Homo sapiens: one gene and its partners. The protein of the gene in region 1 interacts with the protein of each later gene in a biochemical or structural test. Each region holds a gene or a part of one and is shown on either strand. Other genes may lie near its edges. The genes, in order: BDNF, NTRK2 and SORCS2.

Region 1 (3,600 bases):
GGGCAGTGGTGGGGGTGGAGGGCGGGGGAGGATTAACTGAGCCAGTTCTGCCCCCACCCTCGAATCACCTACCCCCACTCTGGTTAAAGCAGAAGACTTTTTATTTATCTTGGCTGCCCTGGTTCGTTATTAAAAGGGTTAGCTTATACGTGTGTTTGCTGGGGCTGGAAGTGAAAACATCTGCAAAAGCATGCAATGCCCTGGAACGGAACTCTTCTAATAAAAGATGTATCATTTTAAATGCGCTGAATTTTGATTCTGGTAATTCGTGCACTAGAGTGTCTATTTCGAGGCAGCGGAGGTATCATATGACAGCGCACGTCAAGGCACCGTGGAGCCCTCTCGTGGACTCCCACCCACTTTCCCATTCACCGCGGAGAGGGCTGCTCTCGCTGCCGCTCCCCCCGGCGAACTAGCATGAAATCTCCCTGCCTCTGCCGAGATCAAATGGAGCTTCTCGCTGATGGGGTGCGAGTATTACCTCCGCCATGCAATTTCCACTATCAATAATTTAACTTCTTTGCTGCAGAACAGAAGGAGTACATACCGGGCACCAAAGACTCGCGCCCCCTCCCCCCTTTAATTAAGCGAAGGGAACGTGAAAAAATAATAGAGTGTGGGAGTTTTGGGGCCGAAGTCTTTCCCGGAGCAGCTGCCTTGATGGTTACTTTGACAAGTAGTGACTGAAAAGGTGGGTTTGTTTTCTTTCTTTCTCTTTCCGTTTTTCTGTTTGGTCGGCTAGAAAGCGTGTGGCTTTAGCGAGGTCTGTCATTGCCTGGGCTTCCTGGCTGGAACAAGTAACTTGGTGTAACGTTATCTGGGGGCGTTCATCAATAAAAAATGCTGTTATTATCTTGATTGAATTCCTATTAGGCAAACTCTAGAGAGGTCAGTGCGCGAACTCTGTTTAAGCCGGCGTGTTTAAGGCAGCAGAGTAAACCAATAGCCCCCATGCTCTGTGCGATTTCATTGTGTGCTCGCGTTCGCAAGCTCCGTAGTGCAGGAAGGTGCGGGAAGGTGTGTCTGTGGCCCGGGAAACGCACGCCCTCTCCCAGAGAACTTGGGTGCTGGGATGGGGAGGAAGGGGAGAGTTGAAAGCTAGGGGAGCGAGACCTCGGGGCGTGCGATTCTCACTCGCTCCCTCCCGCCCCAGCGCCCACAGCCGGGGTTTCTGCAGAGGGCGCGGGACGCGGGGTTCCCCGGGGCTGAGGCTGGGGCTGGAACACCCCTCGAAGCCGCGGGCGTCCTGTCCAAGGCGCCCCAGGAGGGCGCAGGACTCGCAGGGCGATGTCGCGGGGCCCTAGGGGAGGAGGTGAGGACAGGCCCCGGGGGAGCGGGGAGTTCCGGGCGCCCCTCGGTTCCCCGCGCGAGGAAAAGACGCGGCGTTCCCTTTAAGCGGCCGCCTCGAACGGGTATCGGTAGCGCGGGCGAGCGGGGAGCGGGGGGCGGGGGGCGGGGGGGGGGGGGCGGCGCCGTTTGACCAATCGAAGCTCAACCGAAGAGCTAAATAATGTCTGACCCGGGCGCAAGGCGCAGCCTGGAGCTCCGGGTCCCCGACGCTGCCGCCGCCGCGCCCGGGCGCACCCGCCCGCTCGCTGTCCCGCGCACCCCGTAGCGCCTCGGGCTCCCGGGCCGGACAGAGGAGCCAGCCCGGTGCGCCCCTCCACCTCCTGCTCGGGGGGCTTTAATGAGACACCCACCGCTGCTGTGGGGCCGGCGGGGAGCAGCACCGCGACGGGGACCGGGGCTGGGCGCTGGAGCCAGAATCGGAACCACGATGTGACTCCGCCGCCGGGGACCCGTGAGGTTTGTGTGGACCCCGAGGTAGGCAAGCGCTGGGAATGGGGCTTGGTGCAGGAGCTGCCCGTCCGCGGGAGAGAGTTGACTGGGGGATCCCCCACCCCAAAGTTGTGGGACGAGGCCAGTCTCCTTCTTTCCTCCCCTCCGGTAGAAGGGACGATTTGGAGTTACTCTTGGGGAGTTTTCTCCCCCATCCCACAACCCAGAAGGTCAGCCGGCACCACCAGGGAAAAAGGGACCCGGGGAAGTCACGAAGTAGAGGAGGGAAGGCCTGGAGGAGACCCAGAGCTGCGTGATGGGAGCAAAGACGGCGACCCGGGGATCCCTCGCAGCCCTCCCCCAGCCCAGGAGTAGTCGAGAGAGACTTAGGGGGCCAGAGCTGTCGAGGGTCCTGACTGAGGGGAGGGTGCTGGGGCTAGGCTAGGAATCCTTCCAGGGGGTGGGTGGTCCCCGCGCCGACTTGCGGGGGGAGTGGGAGGGAAGCTTGCGCCTTCAGCCCGCATCCCTTCCCCGGAGCTGCACACGGCTACCTGCTCCCCAGGAATTGAGACTGAAGTGGACTTACAAGTCCGAAGCCAATGTAGCTTGGAAAACTTGGGAGGCGGAATTCCTACCGCTGGGAACTGAAAGGGTCTGCGACACTCTCGGGCAGGCCGAACCCACATCTCTACCCATCCTGCGCCCCTCTTCTGAAGCGCCCTCCAGGGAAGTTAAGAGTTTTGACTTTCGGGGAGTGGTTGGGATGTACGTGGGGGATTCTTGACTCGGGTTAGTCTCTGGGGATGCAGAGCCGGGAAGAGGAATGGGTGAGTGAGTTACTCCTGGAAAGAAATAGCTGAGGATTGGGGGCTCTGTGCCTGACGGGCAAGAAGAAGGGGAGATTACAGACTAGGGGCATCCCTAAGGAAGAAGCCTCGGGGCTGCGAGGGTGAACTGGAGGATGCAGTGTTTGTGTGTTGGGGGTAGAGCGGGGATGAGGGACCGGGGTGGAGGGGAGGCGAGGAGGAGGAGGGGACCCAGAGAACGAAGCTAGGGAAGGTAGAGGGTGCCCTCTGCCGGCCATGCTGCCAAGAGCAGCTACTGGGGGCGGGAGGCTGGGGGTGGGGAAGTGGTAAAGGAAGGTTTTGCGGGATCCCTTAGAGAGCTGGTAGGAGGGACTTGTTGAATGGTGCTGCTGACTCCAGCTCGGTGGGGCGTGCGACTCGTCGTCGGTGGATTTTGACTCCTCGTTCTTGTTTGGCTTCTATGCAAGTTTTCCTCGCGCTGGGGGAGCTTTGATAAGCCTCGATTGGCGGTGTGTTAGGGCTTCTTGGATCTTATTTTAGGGTCCTCTAGTTATCCTGCACTTACTCCTTAATGTCAGTAGCAACCAAAGAACATTTTCCGACAAGCACGCAGGAATGTTCTTGGCCAGAAGCAAAGAAAGGCATATTTCTGAGTGTTTATTAATCCTCCTAGTAATCTTTTAAAGCAAAGTAATATGTAATTGGGAACGTTGATTTTCTAACTGCATATAAAAGGCGACATGATATTAAATGAGACCCCTCCCTACTGACTCAATATCCTGCAAAATCTCTCTCTCCCCTTTATTATTATGGAAAAATCTATTTTTATATGAGTTTGTTGTAAGGTCAAAAGCCATTTTGGTCTTACAATTTGATATGTCTTTACATTTTAACTTATTGAGGCATAATTACAGATTTAATTTGTATGAACGTGTGTGCCTTCAATGCTTATCTCATGCAACATAATTTTTAGGTTGGAGATTTCTGATGTTATGGCATGTAGCGTTTCAAGGCA
Region 2 (3,948 bases), on another chromosome or scaffold:
GGCATTCTGTGTGTAAGCGAGCCTATATTTCATCTTCCACAGTGGGAGGTCAATAGATACTGCTGAAACAGGAAAACCAACAAGTAGCAATAAAGAATGATACTTAGTGATGAGCAGAGCAATACCAAAAGAAGAAGTTAAAAGAGATGAAATGGGTGCCTCAGGGAACAGGAAATAGTGCCACATGGGTAAGGTGGGACTACTGTTTTTCACACATAGTAGCTTGAATCTTTTTCGTAATTTTTATAGAATTATCAACTCTTGTGACTAAATATTTGATTTTTGAAAAACAAAATTAAGTATATACATATTTTTAAAAGTCACCCAGATTATGCCATTGACTTCAAGGAGATTTTTCACTAAGTAAGCCCATTTCTTCTATTTTGCCTTGACATGCTCTGTAATAAACTGAACAGCTTAATTGTCATAGAAGTTGTGAAGAAAACACATTGAGAAAAACAACAGACTCATCTAAGGCCACAAAGTTAGTATGTGCCAGGTTTAGGGTGTGGGGCTTGTATTACACTCTGTTAATCATTGTTATATATTTCATTGCCCTGTATAACTCTGGCTATTAGGGGCTTTTTTTTTTTTTTTTTTTTTTTTGAAACCCCATGAAAGATGTAACATTGGTCTCTATTGGATGCTTACGGGAAGGAAGAGTTTGGAAGGGGGGGTCTCACTAGCCCCTGAAAGCCAGATCTTATTGGGGAATCCTCTCCCAGTGGTGGGATAACCATGAAATATAGACTGTACAAATCTTATTCCAGTCTGATTTCACTAATAAAGAAAGATGGCTTTGCCGGTAAGAATACATGATAAGAGAAAGGTTTATCCATAATAATGTGAAGACGAAGGGTCAGATATTGCCAGGTGGGTGGGTTAATTGCAATTTAACGGCTGTTGAAAATGAATCGCCTTCTTTGACCTCCAGGTTCTGATCTGAGTTAATGATGTATCATAGTTCTTCAAGACATAGCTGTCGGGTGACTATAGTCCCAAGCAGAGTTCCTGACACCAAGAGAGGGACAGGCTCCACTAGCAGGTCCTGACATATTGTTATACCCTCTAAGACATGCCTACGTGTAAAAATTACCATGATTCTTATGCAGTTTAAAGCAGTGTCCACACTCAGTTGGTGTGATAATTTCATGAAGTGATAGCAGCATCCCTAAAATTACACATAGCTTTTGAAATATAAAAGTATAAAAATGATGCTTTGCTGGACTATTAAAAATGTTTATGAGGTTCAAAGTTTCATCTGATAAATACATTCTCAGAGTCTTTCCAATAAAAAGAACTTTTCACTGAAATGAGTCCAACCCATTTTCATTATATTCCAAACAAGATAGCAATTTTACCTATAATATTTAACTATGATTTATATAACTTTGAAACTTTCTAACACTGCAATAGTTCAAACTGCTTGTCTTTGAAAAATGCTTTGAAACTACATTTTCTTCAATAGAATGAGTCTTTCAAAATCTGTGTCTGGTAGAGGGTTAGATTTGTGAGAGTTACTTAAAGCAAAAAACAGATTTTTGCAAAAACAAAATAGGTGCATCTCACCCTTTTGTGTTCTTGAGCATTAGTAAAAAATGGGGGGTAGGAGACAGGAGGAAATAAAAGACATGATGTCAGTCCTTATGTACAATCTCTGTTTATGTGCAAAAACTGGATTAGTAACTGTAGAACAGGAAAAGAGGTGGAAGACAGTTCTTTATACTAGTGTTCTTGAAATAAAAGGTTATTCGGCAATAATGCTTTAAGTAATGTGCATAATTTATTTTGAAATCTAATTATAGCTTTTTTTGGTTTATGTTAGATCTATGAAGCTGATCAAAGTAGCACTTTTTCAGATCAACAGAAATCAGTCTCAAAAAGCAATTAAAGATTGATTTTTAAAGCATAAACAGTTTTCAATTTATTGCTTTTATTTTGATACTGCATTTAACTATTTGCATATGCCTCTGTTTACTTTTCTTGTTCCATAGGTTTGCCATCTGCAAATCTGGCCGCACCTAACCTCACTGTGGAGGAAGGAAAGTCTATCACATTATCCTGTAGTGTGGCAGGTGATCCGGTTCCTAATATGTATTGGGATGTTGGTAACCTGGTTTCCAAACATATGGTAAGGCTTGTGTTTGGCTGTGTCTTAATAGAGAGACAAGAGTGTTTCAGAATGCGAGAATGTATTAAACCTAGTGATGATCATTTGATATTTTATAAGGCTACATATAGAAATTTACAAAGAGTTTTTGATGTACATTCACTTTCTACTTATTCTTAATTAATAAAGACTAATGCAGGCTTGCATTTTAGTTATGCATACCTAAGAGAGCGAGGAGTCTCTATATCCCTAGTGAGCTCTTTGTATCATCCTGAACAAAGCGAGTGACTTTCCCTGTGGTCTTCTCCCTTGGAGGGAATTCAGGGATCAAGTCAACCTCATGCACTTAGCAATTGAAACCTAGAGAAATAGAATAACTTCTGATTTACTTCTTCGCCTGAGCCCAGTTCAGGCAGAGAAGCTTTTCTAATGCTATATATACATATTTTCTCTAGTTAGGGGAAGAAACCCCAAATCTTGTCACTTTGGGATCAATCCTAATCAAGGTTATTTTTGTCTGTTAATTCATTTGTAGAATGAAACAAGCCACACACAGGGCTCCTTAAGGATAACTAACATTTCATCCGATGACAGTGGGAAGCAGATCTCTTGTGTGGCGGAAAATCTTGTAGGAGAAGATCAAGATTCTGTCAACCTCACTGTGCATTGTACGTAATCAGACTGGCATGTGTTTTTAATAGCAAATGATCATGGACGTACCTACGTTTGTTGCTGGGGCACTCTGGGTGCTGCTTAAATTTGTTAAAAAAAGTATATGCAGTGTTTTGTGCATACTCTATTAAGAAACATTATCAGCCTCTTTTACTGTTCAATTTCTGCTTAATAACTCTTGCTCATGCATGTTTTTTCTTTTAAGCTTCTTTTTCGATTTTGAGCTTGTCATTTTGTGCCTTCCTCTGTCTTTTTTCTGATAGAATATACTTTGGGCTGGTTGCTCCCTCTGGTTAATGTTTTAGCTTAAATTTTCGTAAATCAGTTTCTAAAACTTTCTTCCTCTATAAAAGCAATATGATGCTTTAAAGTTATGATACCTAAAGTATTTACTAGCTGTTCACAAATGCCTAATTGTACTGTTGATAAAATAAAACCTCATTCTTTTGTTATCAAGTTTCTGTGAGAAGGTAGGATTAGTCCTACTTAAATTACTGAAAATTATTATCACCGGTAGAAAACTTTTATTATTATTGTTTTAAATTTCTGTATACATTGAATCTAAGTTCAAAGATATCCCTCTTTTTAATTAAACATAAGTACATTGTTTTTCAGTATTGTAACTAATACAATATACATTTTGAAATTCCAAATTATGGCTTTTAGCATGAAGGTGTATATTCAGTAAAAACTATATAGACACTTCACGTCATTGTAAATTCTGAGCTGGCACGGTATAAATTAATGAGGTTTTACTCTATTTGGATTAGAATTTGGATGAGAAAAACATGAACATGCATGTGTGTAAGTGTATGTCTGACTTACACACGTGTAGACCCATGGCCATAGCTGGTATCAATATGCTGGTTAACACTCACTCATAGCACACATTCAGTGTGTGATTGCTGGAGTGAATGATTGAAATCATCAGCTGTAATCCTTTATCATTGTTAGTACAATCACTATGCCCAGTGGGTACTAAACTCATAATTTCTCATCATTTTGACCCACTCAGAAGCCTGAAGTCAATGTTATCTCCAAACATATGCAAGCACTTTCAACTGTATGTCCTTAAATCAGCACCTAACCCAAAATTCATTTGAGCATGGTGGAAGGAATGATGGGCCCTGGGTGTGGGGACCTGGGCTGGTGGGAGGAAGGTAAGT
Region 3 (3,600 bases), on another chromosome or scaffold:
TGAAACACCCATGTTAAGAAGATGAAAGGCAAGCTACAGAGTGAGAGAAAGTATTTGCAAACCACATATCCAACAAGGACCAGTACCTAGACTAGAGGAAGAACACTCAACAGCAAGGAAACAAACCGTCCAGTTAGGAAATGAGCAGAACTGAAAAGACGTTTCACCAGGAGAATGGACAAATGACAGGTAAGCACACGAAAAGATGACAAACGCCATCAGCCGCCAGGGAAGCCCACAGCCAGACATCACTGCGCACCTATCAGAATGGCTGACATTAAAAATAGCGCCAGCATGAAGTACCGGTGAGGATGCAGGGAAGGACACTGGATCACTTACGCATGGCTGGGGAGACTGGAGAATGCCACAGGTGTTCTGGAAAACACTTCAGCAGTTTCTTAACGAACTCAACATGCAACGACCAGAGGACTGAGCACTTGCACTCATGGCGGTCATATCAGAGTAATGAAGACTTCTGTTCACACAAAAACCTGTATGTGTCTGTTCATAGCAGTGTTATTCACAAAGGCCAGAAACTCAAACCGCCCAGGTGCCCTGCAGTGGGTGAATGCACAGGCTGGGGTGCCCCCATGCTGAGATACCATGCTGCAGTGAGAAGGAATCCATTATTAATACCTGCAGCAGGGCCCAGCACGGTGTCTCACGCCTGTGATCCCAGCAGTTTGGGAGGCCGAGGTGGGTGGATCAGCTGAGGTCGGGAGTTCGAGACCAGCCTGGCCAACATGACGAAACCCTGTCTCTGCTAAAAAAAACAAAACTTAGCCAGGTGTGGTGATGCATGCCTGTAATCCCAGCTACTTGGGAGGCTGAGGCTCAAGAATCACTTGAACCTGGGAGTCGGAGGTTGCAGTGAGCCAAGATCCCACCACTGTACTCCAGCCTGGGCAACAGAGTGAGATCCCGTCTTAAAAAAAAAATAATAGTAATACCTGCTTCAACCTGGATGAGCCTCAAGTGGATTATGCCGAGTGAAAAAAGCCACTCCCACATGATCCCCTGCTGTGCCACTCATTCATATAACACTCCTGAAATACAGAAATGGAGAAAGAGAATAGAAATTATCAAAGTTATAGAAATGGAGAAAGACTAATGGTTACCATGGAGTTGGGCTAATGTGCGGAAGTGGGTGTGTCTGCAAAGGGCACCCGGTGGGGTCCTAGTGCTGGCTGAATTGTCCTGTCTCTTTCCTGTATCAGTGTTAACCTCCTAGTCGTGATACTATCATTTGGCAAGATGTTAGCCTTGGGGAGAGCCGGGTACGGGGCACACAGGGTGGATCTGTATCATTCCGTACAACTACATAGGAGCCTACCATTATCTCAGAAGACAATGTTTAATTTTTCTTTAAGCACCAGTAATAATAATGGATATAAATGAAATATACCAGGATGTGAATGGAGGGTATTATGGTGAGATTTAGTTTTGTTCTTTTTCTTTGCTTTACTATTTGTATTTTATATTATTTTCTACCTTGAGAATATACTACTTTTGTGGTCAGGAGAAAAAGACAAGTTATTTTAACCAACTGAAATGTTTAAGAAGTTAAATGTGCATCAGCGCAGCCCTTGAAGGCAGGAACACAAGGCCCCGAGAGGTGGCGCCTCACCCAGGTTGAGCGGATCACGAGTCCTGACTCTGGGTCACACATGCCTTCTCCTTCCCAGGATTAGCACAGGAAACACTTCCCTCCGTGGAAGCAGCTCAGACTTGAGCGCTTCCCCTCATTCCCCGCCCCTCCCTGAGAGGCTGCCTTTAAACAGAAAGAACCACAACCAGCGAGCAGCCTCCTGGGTCCTGGGCTTTGGAGAGCCTCAGTCTTCTAACCTGTCAAATGGGGAGAACGGAGCACCCTGCAGCCTCCTTCCTAGGGACCCCATAACAAATTATCTCATGCCGGGTGGCCTGAACCCACACAAGTCTCCGAAGGAGAATCCATTTGCACCTCCTCCAGCTTCCAGGGCTCCCGGCACTCCTTGGCCCCTGACAGAGTCACTCCTGCCTTTGCCTTCACCTCCACGCAGCCTCTGTCCGTGCCCAAATCTCCCTCTCCTTTCTCTTACACAGATGCCTGTCACTGGATTTAGGGCCCACCCTAATCCAGTATGACCTCATCTTAGCTAATGACACCTGTAAAGACCCTATTTCCAAATGAGGTCACATTCTGAGGTTCCCGGTAGACGTGAATTTTGGGGAGACACTGACCAGCTCAATTTACCACATCTGTGGAGAAAGTTAAGTGAACAGAATTTACGTAAAAGTTTTCTATCAACTTACAACGTTTGGCTGGTATAAACTGAGAAGATGGCTAAGTGGTTAGTAATCACGCTGTTTCCTCCATCATCACTAGGAAACGGTTTCCTCGTGCCCCTGGTGCCGGCGAGGGAGGAAGAGGGAAGGGGAGGAGAGGAGGAAGGGAGGGAGGGAGAATGTGATCATGAGCCATAAATCGAAGAAGTTCCTGTTTCCTTCACTCAATCCCCCACCTCTGCGAGGGAAATGCGGTTATTGGAAGGTGGAAGGAGATGGTGGAGCGGCCTCTCTGGGTGACTCGGTGCCACGCGGGGATGGCAGTTGGTGGGAGCTCCTCTCTGCACTCACCCTGCCCCATCTCAGCGTCACTCCTGGTACCGCATGGTCTGAGAAAGAGAAAATTAAGAACCGCAGCTTCCCAGAAAGGAAAATCCTGCTTGGTTTCCAGGCAGGCGGCTTAGGCACTTCCAGATGTGTTCCTCTCCCCTGCCGAAACCCTCCTCGCAGTGGGAGGCCCCTCACCTTCCTGGCTCCATCCCTAGCACGGGCCTCTGTGGGTCTCCCCCGGGCCCTGACTGCCCCCCAGCTGCTCTCTGATGACACCCTTGGGCCTCTCCCTCTCCCTCTCTGCCGCTGGGTGATTGTTCTGAAATATCCCTTGGCCACAGCCCCTAGTTAAACCAGCTGCCTTGGTCAGCCCCATACTCCAGGAAGAATCTCCAGGGCAGAACCAGGCCCGGTCTCCTGTGGGTCCCCAGAGCCCACTCATGTCAAGGAAGGGAGGGCGGCAATGAATGAATGAGTGAGTGAGTGAGTGAGTGAATGAACCACTCTGGCCCCTCAGCTTCAAGGCCCACTCCTGAGTGGCCACATGGTGTTTCTCTGCAGGGTGATGTCCTGACTACCAAGTACCAGGTAGACCTTGGGGACGGCTTCAAGGCCATGTACGTGAACCTTACACTGACCGGGGAGCCCATCCGGCACCGCTACGAGAGCCCCGGCATCTACCGCGTGTCCGTCAGGGCAGAGAACACGGCAGGCCACGATGAGGCGGTGCTCTTTGTCCAGGTCAACTGTAAGTTTATTGCCCCTTTGAGGCCAAAGGTCACTCCCTTTGAGAGAGAGAACCTGGCTTTGGGGGAAACACAGGGAAGCCCCCGGGATTGCTCTAGGCCCCTGGTACTCAGGACGGTGAACCCGAGGGCAGGGAGGCAGGGAGGCTGGGCTCAAACCCGCACCCCTGATGACCCATACAATAGTAGGGCAGAGCTGGTAGCTGGTGGTGATATTGATGATAGTGGTGGTGATGGTGGTGGTGGTGGTGGTGGT

The links.
Region 2: the proteins of BDNF (region 1) and NTRK2 form a complex in vitro, tested with the Homo sapiens proteins (3 studies listed by BioGRID).
Region 3: the proteins of BDNF (region 1) and SORCS2 interact in a biophysical measurement, tested with the Homo sapiens proteins (one study listed by IntAct).

What each region holds. Positions count from the first base shown.
Region 1 is NC_000011.10:27,698,388-27,701,987, reverse strand, and holds the start of BDNF (neurotrophic factor BDNF precursor form isoform a preproprotein), read left to right. Parts: upstream 1-1,532; 5' UTR 1,533-1,824; intron 1,825-2,320; exon of another isoform or gene 2,321-2,582; coding exon of another isoform or gene 2,583-2,606; intron 2,607-3,600. UniProt on the Homo sapiens protein: Important signaling molecule that activates signaling cascades downstream of NTRK2. During development, promotes the survival and differentiation of selected neuronal populations of the peripheral and central nervous systems.
Region 2 is NC_000009.12:84,721,579-84,725,526, forward strand, and holds part of NTRK2 (BDNF/NT-3 growth factors receptor isoform a precursor), read left to right. Parts: intron 1-1,994; coding exon 1,995-2,131; intron 2,132-2,645; coding exon 2,646-2,778; intron 2,779-3,948. UniProt on the Homo sapiens protein: Receptor tyrosine kinase involved in the development and the maturation of the central and the peripheral nervous systems through regulation of neuron survival, proliferation, migration, differentiation, and synapse formation and plasticity.
Region 3 is NC_000004.12:7,720,538-7,724,137, forward strand, and holds part of SORCS2 (VPS10 domain-containing receptor SorCS2), read left to right. Parts: intron 1-3,159; coding exon 3,160-3,346; intron 3,347-3,600. UniProt on the Homo sapiens protein: The heterodimer formed by NGFR and SORCS2 functions as receptor for the precursor forms of NGF (proNGF) and BDNF (proBDNF). ProNGF and proBDNF binding both promote axon growth cone collapse (in vitro).